2 separate regions of the Homo sapiens genome follow, and region 1 is linked to region 2. Evidence: fine-mapped expression QTL. Tissue or cell type: lymphoblastoid cells. Region 2 holds a variant in brackets; the other region holds the start of a gene. All regions are shown on one strand. Distances are between the middles of the regions.

Evidence for each region. PIP is the estimated chance that this variant, and not a neighbour inherited with it, causes the effect.
Region 1: it holds the start of WASHC4, and the variant in region 2 is fine-mapped to the expression of WASHC4 in lymphoblastoid cells (GEUVADIS, PIP 0.95).

The regions. Positions count from the first base shown.
Region 1 is chr12:105,103,534-105,113,397 of GRCh38, forward strand. It overlaps WASHC4 (WASH complex subunit 4), which reads left to right and starts at 4,198. Exons shown (of 33, transcript NM_015275.3): 1 at 4,198-4,328; 2 at 7,592-7,731. The coding sequence starts at 4,268. It overlaps LOC414300 (a long non-coding RNA gene), which reads right to left and starts at 4,109. Exons shown (of 2, transcript NR_121211.1): 1 at 3,255-4,109. RefSeq lists silencers at 4,007-4,286, 4,497-4,746 and enhancers at 4,307-4,466, 6,305-6,464.
Region 2 is chr12:105,055,133-105,066,589 of GRCh38, forward strand. It overlaps ALDH1L2 (aldehyde dehydrogenase 1 family member L2), which reads right to left. Exons shown (of 23, transcript NM_001034173.4): 5 at 11,436-11,457; 6 at 10,135-10,224; 7 at 7,756-7,890; 8 at 6,495-6,620; 9 at 5,849-5,940; 10 at 2,941-3,088. Among named protein-coding and RNA genes, the nearest start is that of ALDH1L2, 24 kb to the right of the region's middle. RefSeq lists an enhancer at 5,365-6,564. The variant C/A (reference allele first, on the strand shown) is at 5,345.

The DNA of each region.
Region 1 (9,864 bases), 48 kb after region 2:
AAAGATGTTCATGTCCTAATCCCTACACCCTGTGAATATGTTACTTTACATGTTTAAAAGGACTTTGCAGATATGATTAAGGTAAGGATTTTTGAGATAAGGAGATTATCCTGGATTATCTGTGTGAGCTTGATGTAATCACAAGGGTCATTATAAGAGGAAGGCAGGTGAATCAGTCAATAGTAGGAAATGTGATGGGAGAAACAAGAGGTTCAAGTAATGCACAGAAGATGAGAAAGGCAAAGAAATAGATTCTTAGTGTCCAAGAGGAATCAGCCCTACTAACACCTTTACTTTAGCCCAGTGAGACTGATTTTGGCATTCTGACCTCTAGAACTAGAAGATAATAAATTTGTACTCTTTTAACCACTAAGTTGGTGACAATTTGCTACAGCAGCAATAGGAAACTAATACATAACTTAATAGTGAAGATAATTATGTCAATAGATAACTTTGAAGTGGTAAATACCATGGAAGCACAGGGCCGAAGCACTTGGTCCAACCAGGAATTCAGGGAATTAGATATAACGGTAATCTAGGCTGGGCGCAGTGGCTCACTCCTGTAATCCCAACATTTTGGGTGGCCGAGGTGGGCGGATCACCTGAGGTCAGGAGTTCAAGACCAGCCTGACCAACATGGCAAAACCCCGTCTCTACTAAAAATACATATAGTGGTAATCTATATGATTCCACAATCACTGATAACCAACCAGTACAAGGATTTTAGGATCCCTTAAATAAAAGGGCAGATTGGAAGAAGCCTTGAGTTACATGCTATGAAGCATAAATTCCATACCATAGGCAATGGGAAGGATCTAAAAGGGCATGACCTGATCAGATAGGTTTCGAGAAGCTTCACACAGAGAATGTGGACAGTGGAGAGAGAAGACCTGTCACACATCTATAGTGGTTGTTCAAGTGAGGGATTACTTTGTAAATAAATACATGAATTAACATATTAGGAATTTTTTAAACAGATACACGCAGGATTCTGTGACAAACTACTAAGTGAAATGTCTCTAGTGAGTTATTGCCATAGAATTTCTATTGTAGGAAGAAGATTTTATTTATTTTAGATTGTATTTATTTATTTTAAACTTTTATTTTAGGTTTAGGGGTACATGTAAAGGTTTGTTACATAGGTAAACTCATGTCACGGGGGTTTGTGGTACAGATTATTTCATCACCCAGGTATTAAGCCCTGTACCCAATAGTTATCTTTTCTGCTCCTCTCTCCACTCCCACCCTCCACTCTCAGTTAGCCTCCAGTGTCTGTTGTTTCCTTCTTTGTGTTAATGAGCTTTCCTCATTTAGCTCCCACTTATAAATGAGAACATGTGGTATTTGGTTTTCTGTTCCTGTGCTAAGTTTGCCAAGGATAACAGCCCCAGCTCCATCCATGTTCCTGCAAAAGCTATGATCTCGTTCTTTTTCTTGGCTGCATAGTATTCCATGGTATATATGTACCACATTTTAAAAATCCAATCTGTCATTCAGGAGCATTTAGGTTGACTCCATGTTTTTGCTATTGTGAATAGTGCTGCAATGGGAAGATACATTCCCATGCATGTATCTTCATGGTATAATGATTTACATTTCTCTGGGTAAAAATCCAGTAATGGGATTGCTGGGGTGAATAGCAGTTGGAAGAAGACTTTTAATGTAAGTTAATAAACAAATTCACCAAGAACTTAGCTATATAACATATATGTAAAATATTTTGGTATGGAATAAACTAGAACTTAAGGTGTGGGTATATGGGGCTGTAAGTTAAAGGCACAGATTCCTAGGAACTGGCAGGCAGGCACCTTCTGTAGGCAGCTGTTCTAAAGTTCACAGAAGCTCTCAGAATAGCACAATATTGCCCATATGAAAAGTTTCTCCTTCTATTTCCAAGCTTGCTTTTCAGAAAGTACCGTGTGAATGAAGAGTAGTAGAATGAAGAATATGTGATTACTTAAAATAATGATTTGCCTTCTGCAGACTACGTCTAAGAACAATAGGACATTTTTATAAATAACTTTCAGATAGCACTTTTCATTTAGTGAATGTGCTTTTCTATTTGGTATCTAATTTGTAATTCTCTAACAAAATTTGAAATTATAGGCTGTGAAATTTGATTTAAACATATTTAAGATCAAGACAGAAAATCCCTGAGTTTTTTTTTTTTTTTTGAGATGGAGTCTTGCTCTGTTGCCCAGGCTGGAGTGTAGTGGCTCAGACGACTTTCCTGCCTCAGCCTCCAGAGTAGCTGGGACTATAGGCAGGCACCACCATGCCCATCTAATTTTTATATTTTTAGTAGGGACAGGGTTTCACCACGTTGCCCAGGCTGGTCTCAAACTCCTGACCTCAAGTGATCCACCCACCTTGGCCTCCCAAAGTACTGGGATTACAGGCATGAGCCACCACACTGGGACTTGTGAGATCTGGGACTTCTGAGATCTTTTTAAGATAAATCTATATTGATTCATAATAGCAACCTGGTACAGTATGTGGTTGGTATTGTTCTATGTACCTTATATGTATTAACTAATTTAGTCCTCGTAAGAATCCCACAAGGTGTTTACTAGTTTTATTTTATTTTCATTTTATAGATGAGGAAATTGAGGCAGAGGTTAAATTACGTGACCCAAGATCACATGGTTAGTAAGTGGCAGAGCCAGGATTTGGACCTAGGCAATTTGGCAGTCAAAACTGTGCTTTCAATTATTACATGACACTGCCTCTTGCTACTAATCTATTAACTTTAATAGATTAGTGTATTTATAGACTCAAATTTTTCTGACTTGTAAGTTCAATTTATCACAATGAGCTGCTGGGAGATTAATTACAGTGATTTAATGCAAATGTTAAGAATCCAGGAAAGTCAAACTCATGGTCACACAGAAAGTACAGGAAAAAAGTTTGTCAGCCATTAGACCCTAAGGATGCCTGTTCTTTTCAAGATTTTTTTTTTCTTTCTGAAATGCCCACTAAGTCTGCCATAGGGTCAGAAAGCAATTTTCTTACATGTTTTATAGTTTCTGCATCTAGCCTGGTGCCTGGTACCCAGTGGGCACTCAATAAACATTTAACTCAGGGCAGATCCAATGACCTCAGAAGAATGCTCTTCAATAGACCTTTTGCCTACATTGATTAGTTCTTTTCGGTACTTTTTAAGATTACAAGAGTAAAACCCTAATAAATTCTCATTGTTAAGGATTCAAAACACATAAGTAGACACATCAAAACTTGAAAATCCTGTTACTCACCAACACATGCTTTTCCCCAGGTAACCACCGTCCTCTGATTTGTCTTCCTATGAATTTACATACACGTAGGCACATACGCGTTTGTATAACTTAAAAACATAAATGTAATCACAAATACACATTACTCTGCAACTGTCTTGTGTCGGTTGTTCATGCCATTATAAATATATTTCATCTATTTTAGCAGCTCTTCAGTGATTCGTAGTATGGATGTATTGAGCTTTATGTAATTCACTTGTAATGAACATTTAGATAGTTTCCTATTAAAAACCACGTTGCTATAAATATTCTTGTGCAAATACGTGTATGCATGTAGAATTTTACACCGATCCCGATTCTCCAAAAATCCAAATTGCAGGTGGGATCATTTTAGAATGTACTTCAATAGCGTTCTTCATCCTGCCTCGCGTTTTTAAAAGGACTGAGTGGAGAGCGGGGAAGAGGTCGTAAGATCCCCTGTTAGGGTGTTCATAAAGTAACTTCTCCTCTCGCACAGAACGTCTTGACTAAAAAACAATCCGTACAGAATGTGCGGGAGAGCTGTAGGAACTCCTACGGTGGCGACAGAGAGGGAAACAGGCTTGTTGGAAGAAGCGCCTGGTCAGCGTTATCCTCGAGGATCATGCCTTCCTGTTAATTCCCCACCCCATCAATTCTACCTTTTTAGGTTAGACTGGGGAGTAACTTTCCCAGGTATTAAAAATCGTCTAGAGAGAGCAGGGCGAAATTAGAGTGCCGAAGTGGCTTGAGAAGCACAGTGAATGGTGGCGAAGCCCGAGCCGGGTCGCAAGACGCCCGCTGGCACTGCCGGCGCCATGGCGGCCGCCTTCGGCCACGGCGGAGGACTCGCTTTCCCAGGGGCCCCCGCGGTCGCAGGGGCAACGAGCCCGGCCGGCCCTCGCGAGCGGAGGCGGGGCCGGGGCCGGAAGTCACGTGCTGTGACAGTAGCTGGGGTGAGGCCGTCGTCGCCGCACGGGCTGGTTGGGGCTGTGTCTGTGGGAGGCGCCGGGGTGATGGCGGTGGAGACTCTGTCCCCGGACTGGGAGTTTGACCGCGTTGACGACGGCTCGCAGAGTAAGGGAGCTGCAGGGCGAGGGCTGCGGGTGGACGCTCCTTCGGCCCGCCGCTGTTCTGGGCTGGGCAGCGCTCCTGCGAGAGGGACGGCTGCGCAGCCGTCTGGTGCGGGACACTTCAGAGCCCTTGGGGTGTGCGAGGGACGCGCTCTCCAGCGTTACTTTCGGGGTTGGGGTCCCAGCCACGGCGGGTCAGGCTGCCCGTTCAGGGCTCGGCGTGTGAGGCGGAGACTCTCCTGGGGAGCCTGCGGTGCCCCGCGGGGAGCGGCGTCCCCCTTCAGCTGCCCCGGGGCTTGGGCGGGGCGCGCCCGGGAGGCCCAGCGGCCCCGGGATCCCAGGCTGCTTCTGTCTCTGGCCTCTTGGGGATTTCGCCAGATTCTGAGCGTTCAGCTCTGGAGGACGCTGATGTCTGGGTTCCTGTTTCGGTTTCCTGTTTTTCTTCTTTTCCTCCCAAATCAACTTTTGCAAGTTTGGGTGTCTTTCCCATCGCGTTGCTATAACCGTAGAAGGGAGCGAAAAAAGAACTTTTCACCCTGCGAAAATAAACACGTGAATGTCATTTTATCATTTTCCAGGCCTTTTATTTATGCTAAGTGATATTTTTCAGTGATGTTCTGCAGTTTCCATCGCAGTTATAAAGGCTTCAAAAATTACAGCAAATCTTCAAATTTTGCTTCACAAGATCGAATTGTCTGATTTTAACTTAGAAGTCTATCCCGAAATAAACAAATTGTGTTTCTTTCAGTAAAATATTGAGGCCAAATTAATTGTAGTGAAACTCTACTTGAAATAAATACAAGTTGGCAATCTGCTTCTTATCTTTGGTCATAGTAATCTGTGTAAGTGATCTAAGAGAGATTGGAGCATGCTGTTTGTGATTTTTTTTTTCCCTCATAGTTTTCCCAAAAGGTGGAACGTTGCTTTTAAAAATTCCGGATGAATTTTGCTTGATTTACGAAGAGAGACTAATGCCTACAATGTTAGATGAATTAGGTTTTACAAGTCTCTCAGAGAAGAGTGAGCTACATCCAGGATGGGTTGCAGTTTTTCACAAAACATTCCTGAGGTCAGGAGTTCAAGACCAGCCTGGCTAACATGGTGAAACCCCGTCTCTACTAAAAAATAAATAGCTGGGCTTGGTGGCGAGCGCCTGTAATTCCAGCTACTTGGGAGGCTGAGGCAGGAGAATCGCTTGAACCCGGCAGGCGGAGGTTGCAGTGAGCCGAGATCGCGCCATTGCACTCTAGCCTGGGTGATAATAAGGTATTAGCTCTTATGCAGCATAAAAATTAACCTTGGAGATAATGACAAAATCTTTTAATTTTTTTTTGTGGAGGGGATTCTGTATTGTTATAAAGTGAACTGTACCTTGTCATATATGTTTTATGGACAAAGATGACGAACTGGTATCTTCAAAAAAAATTGGAATAGAGTTATGTTAATTGAGTTTGAAAATGGTTCAGCCTGGAGTAGAATGGTCTGATTCACTCAACAGATATTTTCTACAACCAGTGGCTGTGCTAGATATTAGGGATAAAAAGATAAAACAAGGAGTGCAGTCTGTTGACAAAGATGAGCATGTTAAGTAGGTTTTTGGAATTTTTACTCTTAAAAAATTACCATGTAGTTCTTATCTCAACTTTTGTTATTTTAACTTTCACCAATTTTACAACCGTTTATTGTCAGCAAGGAACTTTTAATGTTATTTTAGGTTTTCTGTTTCCTGTTTGTGAATCCCTGAACATACTAAAGGAGTGATTTATTGGCGTGGTGTTTCTCTAGCATTGTCTTTTTTTTTTTTTTTTTTTTTCGAGACAAGGTCTCACTCTGTCGCCCAGTGCCGTGGCATCGCCACGGCTCACTGCAGCCTCGACCAGCTGAGCTCAGGTGATCTTCCTACCTCAGCCTCCTTAGTAGCTGGCTGATTTTTTCTTTTTAAATTGGGATAGAGACAAGGTTTTGCCATGTTGAACTCCTGGTCTCAAGCGACCCACCGGCCTTGGCCTCCTAAAGTGTTGGGGTGAGCCACCATGCCCGGCCTAGCATTGTCTTTAAGAAGTCATTTGCTGGTCAAATGCAGCTTTGACTGGTCATTTCCTGTGTAGTTGAGAATAAGACAACTATTTGGGGTTCTGAGAATCTGGGCAGTCTTATATGTAAGCTGTAGGGAAGAGAACACCTCCCTGTGCTTGGCGTTCATTAATTTTTGGTCTGTGAATCATATCTAGACTAATTGTTTTCCAAAATTGCCTAGATTAATGCTATAATAAGACAGAAACCTTAATGAACTAAATGGATTCACCGGATTTAAAACTTTATGTGGTTGAAGAATAAAGGAGAGTGGGGGCTAGGTCTTTATACTTTAATACAGCATGAGTCAGAACACACTTTCTCTTACTTGCTTCACATTGCTAATTTGAGGAGAGCAAATTTTTACCTTTTTTAGAAGACAAAGGTTGAATAAAGTTATTCATATCAATAAAAGAAACTGAGTTGGAGTTGAATTTGTTACCTTTGGGAACAAGTAATGAATTTTTATGTGTAACGTGAAATACTTTGACGAATAGGCATATTTTAAAATCCAGCTTATTCCAATGATTCCTTAAAGTTACCTATGAATGTGTTAATTCTGTGAAGAACAGCATAGTATTCTGTAGTCAAGCAGTGTTCTTTGCTGGTTTTTCCAACTTGATTATGACAGTTAAATAATTTAACAAATATCTTGGTTAAATTTTAGACATTATAGAAATAATATGCTCAAGCAGGTATAAAACCTCCATTTAAAAATATTTAGGTGTATTATTAAACATTAGTGTGTATAGAATTAAAAACTACATTTTTAAGTGTTACTTCTGTGACAGACTGTTTTTTTCACCTTCAGATCATGAATATTTGTTTTTGCAAAAGAGTTGTTCATGACTAAAAGATAGAATCAGGACATTGAATTGTTTAAGGCACTTTTCAGATTGGTTCAAAGCCCTCTATTATGGGGGTAGATGGGCTAGTGGCTTTTTCATAATATGTTAGGGTTTTAAGGTAGTAACTTTATATATGGTAACATCTACTGCTTTTAAAATTATTTCGTGTATAGAGAAGATTGAAAGCTGAATTGTTGTTTAACTTTGGAACTTTATTTTCAGGAAGTCCAGACATTCCAGAGTAATAATTAACAGTGCTTTGCGTGACTTTTGAGGTTATTTGAAGTAAATGTCCTGCAATTCATTACTTGCACTTATCACATACTGTTTTAAAATTTAAACTTAGAAATTCATGCCGAAGTCCAACTTAAGAATTATGGGAAATTTCTTGAGGAGTATACCTCTCAACTGAGAAGAATTGAGGACGCTCTGGATGACTCAATTGGAGATGTTTGGGATTTCAATCTTGATCCTATAGCATTAAAGGTTTGATTTGATTTTTTAAAAATATATGTATATATTTTCTGGACATACTATATCCTGAAAACATAATTTTTTAAAATGGAAAAAGTATTTTTATTTGAAATCTAAGAACAAAATGAAAGTTGGAGAAAATTGTTAATTTCCTTTTCTCTAAGCCATGCAGATGTTTTTTAAATGTGTGTGTTTTCTGTTTAAGAATGACAAACACACAGCCTTTAGTGTCAAAGAATGACACAAACTCCAAGTCTTTGAGCTTGCCTTTGATTTTCATTATTAAGAAAATGAGGGCTGGATAGAATATTCAGGCTTTGTTTTTTCTTGATTGAGACTATTTTACATAGAGTGAAATGCAGATACTCTTAATTTTGCCAAACACTTGTAACTCATATCCCAATTAAGATAGAGAATATTTTCACCATTTCTGAAAAGTTCTCTCATGCTATATAGATGTTAATGTGTGAGTAATTTTTTAATGTATAAAATACATTACTCTTTCCATTTTGAAATATTTCTTTTATCTTTAAAATTAGTTTGTTACCACTTGAAAAATAATTTACATTTTATTGAGCACTTGTGTATTACACACTGTCCTAAGTCACACACTGACTTGTTTTTATAACAGCTTTCTTGAGATATAATTCATATATCATACAATTCACTCATTTAAATTGTATAATTCAGTTGTTTTTAGCATATTCACTGAGTTGTACAACCATCACAACAGTCAATGTTAGAACGTTCTCAGCCCCCAAAAAAGAAACCATGTACCGTGTGATAATCAACCCCCAGTTCATGCCATGGCATACCTGCCCTAGGCAACCACCAGTCAATCTACTTTTTATCTCTATGTGTTTGTCTCCTCTGTACACTTCATATAAATGAAATCATACGATATGTGCTCCTTTGTTGCTGGCTTCTTTAACTTATGTTTTCAAGGCTCATCTATGTTGTCACATGTTTTTAGTACTTTCTTTTTTTGCTGTTGCTGAATAATATTCCATTGTAAGGAATGGATAACCACATTTTATTTATCCATTCATCAGTTGATAGACATTGGATTTTTCTACTATTTGGCTGCTATGAGCATTTGGGCACATGATTTTGTGTAGACATATATAAGTATATTGTATATAAAATGTGTGTACATTGTGTGTATATTTTATACATATGTATATATGGGAGTGGAAATCCTGGGTTATGTGGTAACTATGTTTAACTTTTTGAGGAACTGCCAGAATGTTTTCCAATATGGCTATACCATTTTACATTACTACCAGCACTGCATGAGGGTTCCAGTTTCTCTACATCCTTGCCAGCCTTTATTGTCTTGATTATATTCTTCCTAGTGAATGTGAAAGCTCATTGTGGCTTTGATTTGCATTTCTGATGGCTAATAATGTTGAGCATCTTTTCATGTGCTTATGGCCATGTGTCTGTTTTCTTTGGAGAAATGTCTGTTCACATCCTTTGCCCATTTTTAAATTGGGTTATCTTTTTAGTATTGCATTATAGGACAAGTATTGACTTTTAATTCCCACCACAATCCTATAAAGTAGATACAATGTCATCTCCATTTGTAAATGAGAAAACTAAGGCATAGAAAAGTTAAGTAACTTAGTCAAGTAAGTGACACATTTAGTTAAATAATGAATATCAGGCAGCTTGACTCCAGAGCCTGTGCCCTTATCCAATACCCTGAACTGCCTCACAAATACTTTATATATTTGTAAACTGAAATTACTTTCCTTTGACTTCTTTTCTTGCAGGCTGGATAGACTTAGTCTTACTTTAAAAATCATCCCCCCCCAAATTTGTAATTGTCTCTTTTTGTTCCTCAACACTTCTGTGAGAATCATTGTATGTAAGTTATAGGAACTCTACTAGGAAACTGTCATTCTCAACCTGTACTATCTCTGAGGGTAATAAGTTTCATATATCTGTCACTTGGCATTAAGTAATACATGTTGATTTTTTAAACAGATGCTGTTGGGCTTTCTCGCCATTAAGTAATACTTGTTGATTTTTTTAAGACTTGCTGTTGGGCTTTAAGGGCCTCTTCTAGATAGGATTATAAAATCTGTTTTTTTTCTCAACTCTCAGATTTTATAAAAGGGTGAAATCATCTCTTAGTTTTTA
Region 2 (11,457 bases):
TCTGGATGACTTTGAGGCTCTGTGCAGGCAGGAAGTGTGAAGGTAAGGCAGAATTGTAAACTGCCTGCTGGAGCACTGAAGGTATATCCCAGCACACACACAGAGCCCCCTCACAAATGCTGGGAGACTTATTGGCTCAAGGTGTCTAAGAAAATCTATGCCCAATCATTAGATGACCATTAAAGTAACTGAACAGAGACTTCAGTAGTGGCAAACAATAAAAAATAAAGACTTTACAGAATTGTCAAGGAAGTCATTGAACAACAACAACAAAAAGCAGCAGCAGCAACAGCAACAAATGTTGTGAAGGGAGATGGGGAGAAGGTCTGCTTTCTGGAGTTACCACATTCTATTATTTTAAATGACCACCTTTCAACAAAAGATTACAAGACGTGCAGAGAAACAGGAAAGTATGGCCTATAAACAGGTGAAAAAAAAGCAGCTAATAGAAACCATCCCTAGAGAAGCCTAGACATTGGATTTGCTAAAGAAAGATTTTCAATAAGCTTTTGTAAATATGTTCAATGAACTAAAGGAAACCATGTCTAAAGAATTAAAGGAAAGAGAATAATGTCTTGCCAAACAGAGAATATCAATGAAGAGATAAAAATTATTTTAAAAAGAACCAAATAAAAATGCTTAAGTTGAAAAGTGCAATAACTGAAATTAAAAAATCACTGGAGGGACCCAATAGCAAATTCAAGAAGGTGAAAAAAGCCTGAACAACAGGAAGGAATAAGAATAAAGAAAAATGAACAGAGCCTCAGAGACTTATGGGATACCATCAACTATACCAACATATGCATAAAAGGAATCCCAGAAGGAGAGGAGAATGAGAAGGGAAAGGAAAAATATTTGAAGAAAGAATAGCTGAAAATTTCCTAAATTTGATGAAAAACATTAATTTGCACATTTCAAGAATGCACAATCCAAGAAGCTCAACAAATTCTAATGGGAAAATTCAAAGGCTCCACACCTAGACACATCATAACAAATTATCAAAAGACAAAGAGAAAATCTCAAAAGCAGCAAGAGAGAAGGAACTCATCATACAAAAGAGTCCTTAATAAAATTACCAGTTGACTTATCAGAAACCATGAAGGCCAGAAGGCAATACGATGAAATACTTAAAATGATAAAAGAAAAATACCGTCCAAAAATTCTATACCCAACAAAAATATCCTTCAGAAATGAAGGAGAAATTAAAACATTCCCAAGTGAACAAAAACAGAAAATTGATTGCTAGCATACCTGGCCTACAAAAAGTACTGAGAAGAATCCTTCAAGTTGAAATGAAAGAACACCAGACAATTAACTTGAAAACACATGAAGAAATAAAGAGTACTGGTAAAGGTAACTACACAGGTAAATATAAACATTGGTATAAATATATTTTTTAACTCTATCTCATTAAAAATACAACTTCATAAAGCAATAATTATAAAACTGTTGGTGGGCTCATGATGTATAAAGACATAATTCATATGACAATAATGGCACAAATTAGGGGAGTATGCAACAACTATGTTACAGCAAAGCTTTCCTATACTATTAAGTTGGTGTTCATCTGAACTAGATCATTTTAAGCAAAAATGTTAATTATAATCCTCAAGGCAACCACTAAGAAAATAGCTTAAAAATACAGTTAAATTAAAAATAAGGGATTAAAAAGGCATACTAGACATATTTAACATAAAAGAAAGCAGTGAGGGAGAAATTGAGGAATAAAAAGGTGTCAGACAAGACACAAGAAAGCACAAGTGGCAAAAGAACATAGATAAATTAGACTTCATCAAAATTAAAACCTGTTGTGTGTCAAAGGACACTCAAAGTTTTCAGCAAATCTACAGAATGAGAGAAAATATTTGCAAATCTTACATCTGATAAGGATCTAGTATCGAAAATATACGAAGGACGCTTAAGACTCAGCAATAAAAAGACAAGCCAGTTTTAAAATGAGCTAAGGATTTGAAAGAACAGACATTTCTCCAAAGAAGAAATACAAATGCCCAATAAGTATATGAGAAGATGCTCAACATCAGTAGTCATTAGGGAATACAAATGAAAACCACAATGAGATCCCACTTTACACCCACTAGGACAACTAAAAGAGAAAAGACAGATGAGAGCAAATATTGGCGAGGATATGGAGAAGTTGAAACCCTCATACATTGGTGGGATTACATAATGGTGTAGCCACTTCGGAAAACAGTTTGGCAGTTACTCAAAAAAGTTAAACATAGAGTTACCATATGACTCATCAATTCCACTCTTAGGTACATACCCAAGAGACTTGAAAACATATGTTCATGCAAAAACTTATATATGAATTTTCATAGCATTATTCATAATAGCCAAAAGGTAGAAACAACCCAAATGTACATCAACTGATGAATGGGTAAACAAACTGTGGTATACTTATACAATAGAATATTACTTGGCCAAAAAAAGGGATGAAATGATGATACAACATGGATGAACGTTGGACACATTATGCTAAGAGAAAGAAGCCAGAAACAAAAAGCCACATGTTGTATGATTCTATTTATATGAAATCTCTAAAATAGGCAAATCCATAGACAGAAAAGAGGTTAGCATTTTCTAGGAACTATCATGCTATCCAATTTTGGAACATTTTTTGTATGAGGTAGTCCTGGAAGAGTAAAGAATGACTGCCAATGGGTACAGGGCTTCTTTTTGGGATGATGAAAATGTTCCAAAATTGGATGGCATAATAATTGCACAACCCTGTGAATATATTAAAAACTACCCAAAATGCACATTTTAAAGGGGAATTTTATGCCATCTGAATTAGATCTCAGTAAAGCTGTTGTTTTTTAAAGGTCATAAATATAAAAACAAATGGGCAACAGGCACAGCAGTCTTTTATAGTGTATGGATCTCACTGATTTAGGGTTGCAACATCAAGGAAAAGCTTACATAATCTACAACCAGCTCCACCTCTTGATCTTCTCCTCTCAGTTTCCTCACGACCTTTTGGATAAAGCCTTCAAACTTGGTGGCCATATAGACATCTTCATTCTGCAACTGAAGCCCACCACATTTCTGTCTGATCTCTTCAACCAGCCTTAAAGTAAAAACCAGCTTCGCGTTACTTAGATTTTTAAAAGGGGTTAGGAAGATTGTGTTATTTGCACTTGTCAAGTTGTTTTGAGGTAAGACTTACATCACATGCCTATTTATATCCTATGAGATCTTCTGTGATACTCATCAGAGAAATTGATAAGACTAGGGGCAAGAAATTAAAAATATATCTTGAAGGACAGTGGCAGTTTTTTAAAACTTTATCCATGACTAAAAATAAAAGCAATCAAGGCAAAAATATTTTAATTACTTATAAGCAAGGTAGCAAGGATCATATAAAGTCAACTCCTTTCCTTTCATATATACTCAGGGAATAAGAAACAAAGACACTTTCCTAACTGTAAAGATTATGAGAGATGAATGTCATATTGTAGACTATTTTCTCTAAATTACAAGTATAAGATGGACATTTGTTTGTATTACGTAGTTAACATAGGTACTAGCTAGAACCATATGCAGTAGGTCAGTATAACTTTTGAAGTCCTTTCCAATCCTTTGATTTCCACTGTTAGTTTGTCAAATTACAGCTGTTATCTGACATTTCTTGAATAGCAGTGGTGTACGAGGTACAGTGTAGAAAGTCCACCATGGTTGTGGTTCAATCATTTATTCTCTAAAAGAGATGATACCTTTGTAATCAAGATAATAATATCAGATGATTATGGTAAGCCAGACACTCAAACAGAAAATGAGTAATTCCTGCAGGAGTATCTTGCTAGCAAAAAAAAAAGTATTAATAATACAGTACTGGCCGGGTGCGGTGGCTCACACCTGTAATCCCAACACTTTGGGAGGCCGAGGCGGGTGGATCACGAGGTCAGGAGATCGAGACCACCCTGGCCAACATGGTGAAACCCCGTCTCTCCTAAAAATACAAAAATTAGCTGGGCGTGGTGGCATTTGCTTATAATCCCAGCTACTTGGGAAGCTGAGGCAGGAGAATCGCTTGAACCTGGGAGACGGAGGTTGCAGTGAGCCAAGATTGCGCCACTGCACTCCAGCCTGGCGACAGAGCGAGACTCTGTCTCAAAATAATAATAATAATAATAATAATAATAATAATAATAATAATAATAATAATACAGTACTGTGTGTGATGTACCAGGTGTGATGACTCATGCCTGTAATCCCAACTAGTAGGGAGGATGAGATGAAAGGATGGCTATCCCAGGAGTGCAAGGCTGCTAGTGCAAGTGAGCTGTGATCACACCACTGCACTCCAGCCTAGGCGACAGAGTGAGGCCCTATCTGTAATAATAATCATCATAATGTAGTATTGAAATATTTAGTTAAGCCAATTAGAAGTTTCTGGGAACTCATGAATCACAGCTGAGAAATCTATAATTTGAGGAGCCGAAACTCTTGACTTTTGAAAACACTATGTGCTCTTGAAATGATTGTTTTTGATTTCTGGAATAAAACCTCCATGAATAAAGGGGACGTTGTCTAGTTTACACTGTATCCCCAGTGCTAAAACTGTTCCTGACATGTAGTAAGTGTTCAGTCAGTGTTGTTAAGTAAATGAGTGAGTAGATAGAATATTCATCAGGAACGTTGCTTTGTCAATATGAAGGATTTTATCAAGAGGAGGAACATTTTTGCCTTGTTTAATTAGTGTATGGCCACAATGTGGCCTAGGATCAAATCCTCTTAGCTTCTATTCTCTGTACCCACCATCAAGGGACTGCACAGTCCCTGGTGAGCTCCAGCTGTCTTGTTATCCCAGTTACTCGAAGAAAAACACCTCTGAAAGATGCTGCACCAGTAGGATCCTGGTCCAGTTTCCTTGCGATAGAGGCTTTCTGGGACTCCAGCCCTTTCAACTTGCTCTAAACCTCTGTGGAGAAATTCTGATATTGGGTGATTACACTTGTCCTTGCAAGTAGCCTGATAACCCTCATTCTAGATCTGTCTTACTAGGTAATTTATGGGGGGGGCGAGGGTAGGAGAAAAAAGATTTGGGGGAAAGCATAATTAATATCAGGTATCAGATATTATTCTGGTAATATTATTAATATCAGGTGTCAGATATTATTCAGATAATATTCTGGATCAGGCTGCGTAGGAAATTCACTGTTAGCATTCTCACCCAGAGCTTCTCAATTCTGATGTCATATTGGAGGAAAATTAGCTAAGAAACTGGAAGGACAAATTTTTAAAAGATGCAAACAATTCTAAGGGTTGCTTTTTTAGGTATACGGAAGATATGAAAACAACTTCTGGTTAGCAACAAAGAGAA[C/A]TAAACGGATATATCTGCTTGACCATGGAAACAATAGCAAAAAAAGATGAAGAATAAAGATGTGTTGGCCGAGCGTGGTGGCTCACACCTATAATCCCAGCACTTTGGGAGGCCGAGGCAAGCGGATCAGCTGAGGCCAGGAGTTCGAGACCAGCCTAACCAACATGGAGAAACCCCATCTCTACTAAAAATACAAAATTAGCTGGGCGTGGTGGCGCATGCCTGTAATCCCAGCTACTCGGGAGGCCGAGGCAGGAGAATCACTTGAACCTGGGAGGCGGAGGTTGCGGTGAGCCGAGATCGCACCATTGCACTCCAGCCTGGGCAACAAGAGTGAAACTCCATCTCAGGAAAAAAAAAAAAAAAAAAAAAGATGAGTCATAGATAGGTATGATAAGGTAATCACATCCAGAACAAAGGATGTGTGTGGATTTCACTGTCAAAGCCAAAGTCAAAATCTCTAGTGAGGGAATCCCTAGTGAGTCAATAAGGGCGTGGTTTTACCTGGCAACATCCATTGAGCTTGCTCCAGATTTAAAGAAGTCTGTTGAGTCTTCAATAATGGGGACATTGCTTAAAATTCCAGCCCAGATGACCTACACAAAAAGGAAACTCTTATGAGGGAAGTGCCACGTAGAACAATGTGGCAGAGACTGGGCTAGCTCTTCACCAAACCAATTCCCTCTTCATCTTGTACACTCAGCTGTACATACAGCTGGATCACATTTCTCAGCGCCTCTCCAAGTTAGATGCAACCAATGAACAGGAGTGGAAGTGACCTGCACCACCCCAGTCCTAGCCCATGTAAACCTCCTCCACGCCATTCTACATGCTCCTTTGCCCTTCTGGCTGTCTGGAATAGAGACGCCCCCCAGGGAGACCTTGAAAATAACAGAAACTGGGTTCCTGAATGACTTCACCCCTAACCCCCGTGCCAACCTGGAACTGCCTTGGATGACTTATGTGAAAAATCAGTTTGTATATACTGTGTTTAAGCATATGAATTTGGAGGTTGATTTCCTCTTGCAGCTAATACAAAAAAAGAGGAAATAAAGTTCTGATCCCACTACTTTGAGGACTGATGGTACCAGTTACGAACATGCTTCAGTTTTCCAAGGTAACAGTAAGATTTAAGTCATCATGTGTTCACCTTGATGGTCTCTGCCACTTTCACCTCTTCAGCTGTCAGTTCTACCACTGACGTCTCACCCGTTGAAAAGTACTGAGAGGCAGGGATCATTTTTCCATCTTCAAACTGCAGATTTCTCACCGTCAGCTACAAAATAGCAACAAAACAAGCATAAAAATTGAGGATTGAGACAATACAAAAGTGAGGCTGGTGGGAGGAGTCCTATAGATTATATGCATATAAGGGCAAGTTTATTTGGAAAAATACAGATTAAAAGCATTCACCATTATGTGTAAAAGGGCTGAAATGGCACTTGAATAATGGCAGCAGAAAGGAAAAAGTGAGGTCCAGGGATAGGTACATCTCAAAATGGAAAATAAGTCCTGGAAAATTTGACACTTGGACGTAGGTATTTGAATTAGAATCTATTATGAAAATAACAGACACCACCAGTGCTGCTGCAACTCTGCAGCTGCTGCCTCTGAGCACTTGCCCTGTACCATGCTCAAGAATGCATGCATAAGTGCTTGCTTCAGCAGCACATATACTAAAAAAAAGAATGCATGCATGTGCTGAAGGATCTTACCTAATTTCATAAAAGCCAGTGGAGGCGGATGCCATTATTATTCCCATTTTACTGATGCAGAAAGGGAGGCTCAATGAGGTTCAGTAATTTGCTCAGTGCCACACAGACAGTAAGTAAAAGAGCTGGGAGTAGAACCTGGAACTAGCGGCCTACAGTCTTAACGATTTATCCTGCAGCAACTGGAAAATATCTGTAAGCTACAAATTCCCTTTGCACGCTTCATTGGGAAGCTTCGCAAGGGCACACTGAGGCCCAGGGCCAACCCTCCTGAGCATAGGCAGTTTAGGTGGTGCCTGTCTGGTGGATCAGTGGCAAGGGGCATCTGAGGAGGGCCACATCTATTTCACTTGATCCTCCCAGAATCTGGCATTGGGAAGGCAGACAGACAAGATTCTCCTCTCTGTTATAAAGATGGCAAAACAGACTCAAAGGGAAGAATCATCCTGCCCAAGACCAGCGAGTGGGAAGCAGGGATTCACATCCTTATCTCCCCACTGAATTCCAGCCTCTTTCCACTTTACACAAGGCAGCCTATGCAGATCTGTGGGGCCCATCTTGAGACACCTCATCTCCATCAGGGCACTCAGAGCCAGCTCCTCCCCAGCCAGCAATGGAGTGAAAGCTATTCCCTTAATAGCTTGGGTTATAGAAGAAAATCAAAAGGTTATTTCATAGGCAGCCATATTTAACACTCACTGCTTTTCCATCGTTACCAAAAAGAACAAGTCCATTTTTGGTAACGAGACCAGGCTTCTTGGCACCTTTAATTTCCAGTGGTTCTCCAGGAGGCACAGAGCTATTCAGTAATGTCGAGCCATAGAAAGTGACCATCTAGTAAAGAGATCAAACACAGATTGTAAAATCAGGAGAAAAGCTGTTCATAGCGGTATGTATAAGCATCATTCTCTGCAAAAACGCTGAAGTTCATATTATCATCTGTAATAAAATTGAGACACCACAATGGGAGAAACTGTCTCAAACATCCATAGAAATGACACAAGGTGGCCGGGCACAGTGGCTCACGCCTGTAATCCCAGCACTTTGGGAGGCAGAGGCAGGCAGATCACGAGGTCAGGAGATCGAGACCATCTTGGCTAACACGGTGAAACCCCGTCTCTACTAAAAATACAAAAAATTAGCTGGGCATAGTGGCGGGCACCTGTAGTCCCAGCTACTCGGGAGGCTGAGGCAGGAGAATGGCGTGAACCCGGGAGGCGGAGCTTGCAGTGAGCCGAGATTGTGCCATTGCACTCCAGCCTGGGCGACAGAGCCAGACTCTGTCTCAAAGAAAAAAAAAAAGAAAGAAAGAAAGAAATGACACAAGGCAAGAAATAGTCTGTGAATATGTCACTGGAGAGTCCAAAATGCCCCACATCCAGGTGACATGAGTATGCATTTATCACATATTTGCATTGATACAAAGGTGAATGAGATAAAAAGCTCTCAGCCTTTATAGCCTGAAGGTAGGGTTTGGGTGGGTGGGGAGGTGTTGGGGGTGGGCGTCAATGATGGGCAATGCACAGTGGTCACCAGACTATTACAGTGCAGGGTGGTAAGTGATGAGAAGCACAGGGTGCTTTGTGAGTCAGTTCATGGAAAAAGGATTGGATCCAGAGAGTAACCAAGAGACACTGACGCTGACTGCATTATTATTGCACTTCTAGGATGATCAGCTATCATTTATGGAGCACTATTATGATTATGCTATAATGGTTTGTTGAATACTTACTCTAGGCCCAGGGCTAAGTACTTAAATGAGTTAACATGTATTAATTCTTTTTTTTTTTTTTTTGAGACAGAGTCTTGCTCTGTCACCCAGGCTGGTGCAATCTCGCTGCAACCTCTGCCTCCCGGGTTCAAATGATTCTCCTGCCTTAGCCTCCCAAGTAGCTGGGATTACAGGCACATGCCACCACACCGAGCTTTTTTTTTTTTTTTTTTTTTTTTTTTTTTTTTTTTTTTTGTATTTTTAGTAGAGACAGGGTTTTGCCATGTTGGCCAGGCTGATCTCGAACTCCTGACCTGGGTAATCCTCCCACCTCGGCCTCCCAAAGTGCTGGGATTACAGGTGTGAGCCACCATGGCTGGCCAACTCATTTAATCTTCACAATTACCCATAACCTAAGGGAGGCAGTATTATTAGTCCCATTTTACATTGAGGAAACCAAGGCACCCAGTGGTTAAGAAACCTGCCCGAGGTTACACAGTAAATTTTCATAGAAGCATTCTGGCTTCAGATCCTGCACTCTTAACCATTACACTAAACTCCCTCCCTTGGTCACCCATCGAGCCCATGGATTTTTATTGGCACTTAGTATGTACCCAGACTCCTGCTTAACTGCTGAGATTATCAAGACAATCACATGAAGCCCTTGCCCCTAAGGAGTTCACAGTCTAGTGTTGGGGGGAATAAAGAGACCCTCACAATATATGATGTGCGATGCCAGAGGTAGGCAGAGTGTTGCTGGAACCCAGAGATGGGCCATCAGACCCTGCCAGTCTGGGCATGTGAGATCAGGAAACCTCCCCGAAGAGGTGAAACCTGAGAGCCTGGGCTGAGTCAATTACCCATGGATAGAAGACCCTTCAGGCCCTGCCCGCCTCTCCCGCCTCAGCTCTCCCCATGCCTGTCCTCACAGTTCAGACCCTGGCTTCACTGAACTCCTTTTGCAAGTCCTTGACCAGGTGCTGGAGTCTCTTATCTCTGGGGCTTCACCTACTTGTCTTGCTCTCAACCTGGTTAACTCTTCTCGAGCAAAGCAGTGAGCTTTTCTAGGAAGCCTTTCCTAACATGCCTGAGTCTCAGCCTCCATGATAGCGTTTATCTTACTGCACTGAGAATGTTTATTCACTTCTCTGCACTCCCCATAAAACTGCAGGCTCCTTAGATCAGGCGCTGGATTTAGTGTCTGCTGCACAATAAATGCTTAATACATGCTGAGTAAAGGGGAGAGTGAATCACAGACCTGCCTCATGACCAAGGAAGAACCATGGGAAGCCCAGATTTATCTGTAATATCTCTTACAAAGGTAATAATCGGGGAGGGGGGTGGGGGGAGTGGTCCCTAAAACATACCTGTCCATTTATCTCTGTCCAAGCTCCAGGGACTTTATCATGACCTCGAATCCAGTTATGTAAAACTTCGGCAGACTGGTCCCAAGAAATCTAGGAAGGCACAAAATACAGGCTGAGCCTCCTATGGCTGTGAACCTCAAAGGCAATAAAAACGCTTCTCGTCATCAGAGGCAGAAACACTTGTTATTGGGAAATAAAGGAATTTTTGCTTCTTAGTTTTATTTGGAGTAAGTATTTTGTCAGGTGGCTGATTTAGTAAACAAGAGACTTTATTAAAGGAAAATAAAAAGCAGAGGGTTATTTAAAGGGACAGTATGCTTTGTAAAGATGAAGTAGAGCGGGCTGTTGAGGGGAGTAGGCCAGTAGCTGTTGGAGAGTTTTATGTTGGGTTTTTATTAGGTTGAACTTTTTTTTGAAGTTCCCACCTCTGTTAAGTCTCTGCCTCTTTTTTTTTTTGTCTAGTTTGTTTGTGTCTGTCTTAGCTCTCTGCTTTGTCCGCACCTAGATTTTGTCTCAGGTTTATGGGACCCTCCATATTATTAGTTGGTGTGTATGTGTGGATTGGTGTTGGATATGAATATTACCTGATGCCTGTGTTGTTTACTATTGTCACTGCAGGGAGGTTGTATAGTGGCCAAATCTATACCTACTGCATCTGTGTGTTTTTTTGGAATTTCCTTCTCTGCCCTAAGCTGAACTTATGGCTCCAGGTTTTTGTTTTTTGTTTTTTGAGACAGGGGTCTCACTGTGTTGGCCAGGCTGGTCTCGAATGCCTGGTCTCAAGTGATCCTCCTCCCTCAGCCTCCCAAAGTGCTGGGATTACAGGCATGAGCCACTGTGCCCAGCGCACCTAGCATGCCAGATTTTTTAAGGAATATCCCCTTTGCCCTTTTCATTAGCATGTAGCTAGTGATATTTTGACATTTTAACTGCAGAGCGAAGGATTGTTGGGCAGACTGAAGAGGCGTTTCTGGGCATTTTTTATTTGCTTGTTTGTTTGTTTGTTTGCATAGTATCTCCTCTCCTTTCTATGCACATTTGACTAAGTGCCCACCCACTCCAGCATTAGAGATACTATTAATATGCAAATTTTGAGTGGTCTTCCAGACACGAGTCTTCCTAGACTTTATTTTCTTTAGGGGACTCCCCTCTCCTGCGTATGTCTGGCTACCTGTCTACTCTAACAGGTAGGGCTAGGGCAAGCTGGCTTACCTTTTGGCAAGATCATAGTATGTGGGGAACTACTGAAGGGTAGAGGGCCATGAACTCTGAGACGTGTTATTGAGTTGATATATAAATACCTCAGCATTTTCCTTTTTCTGG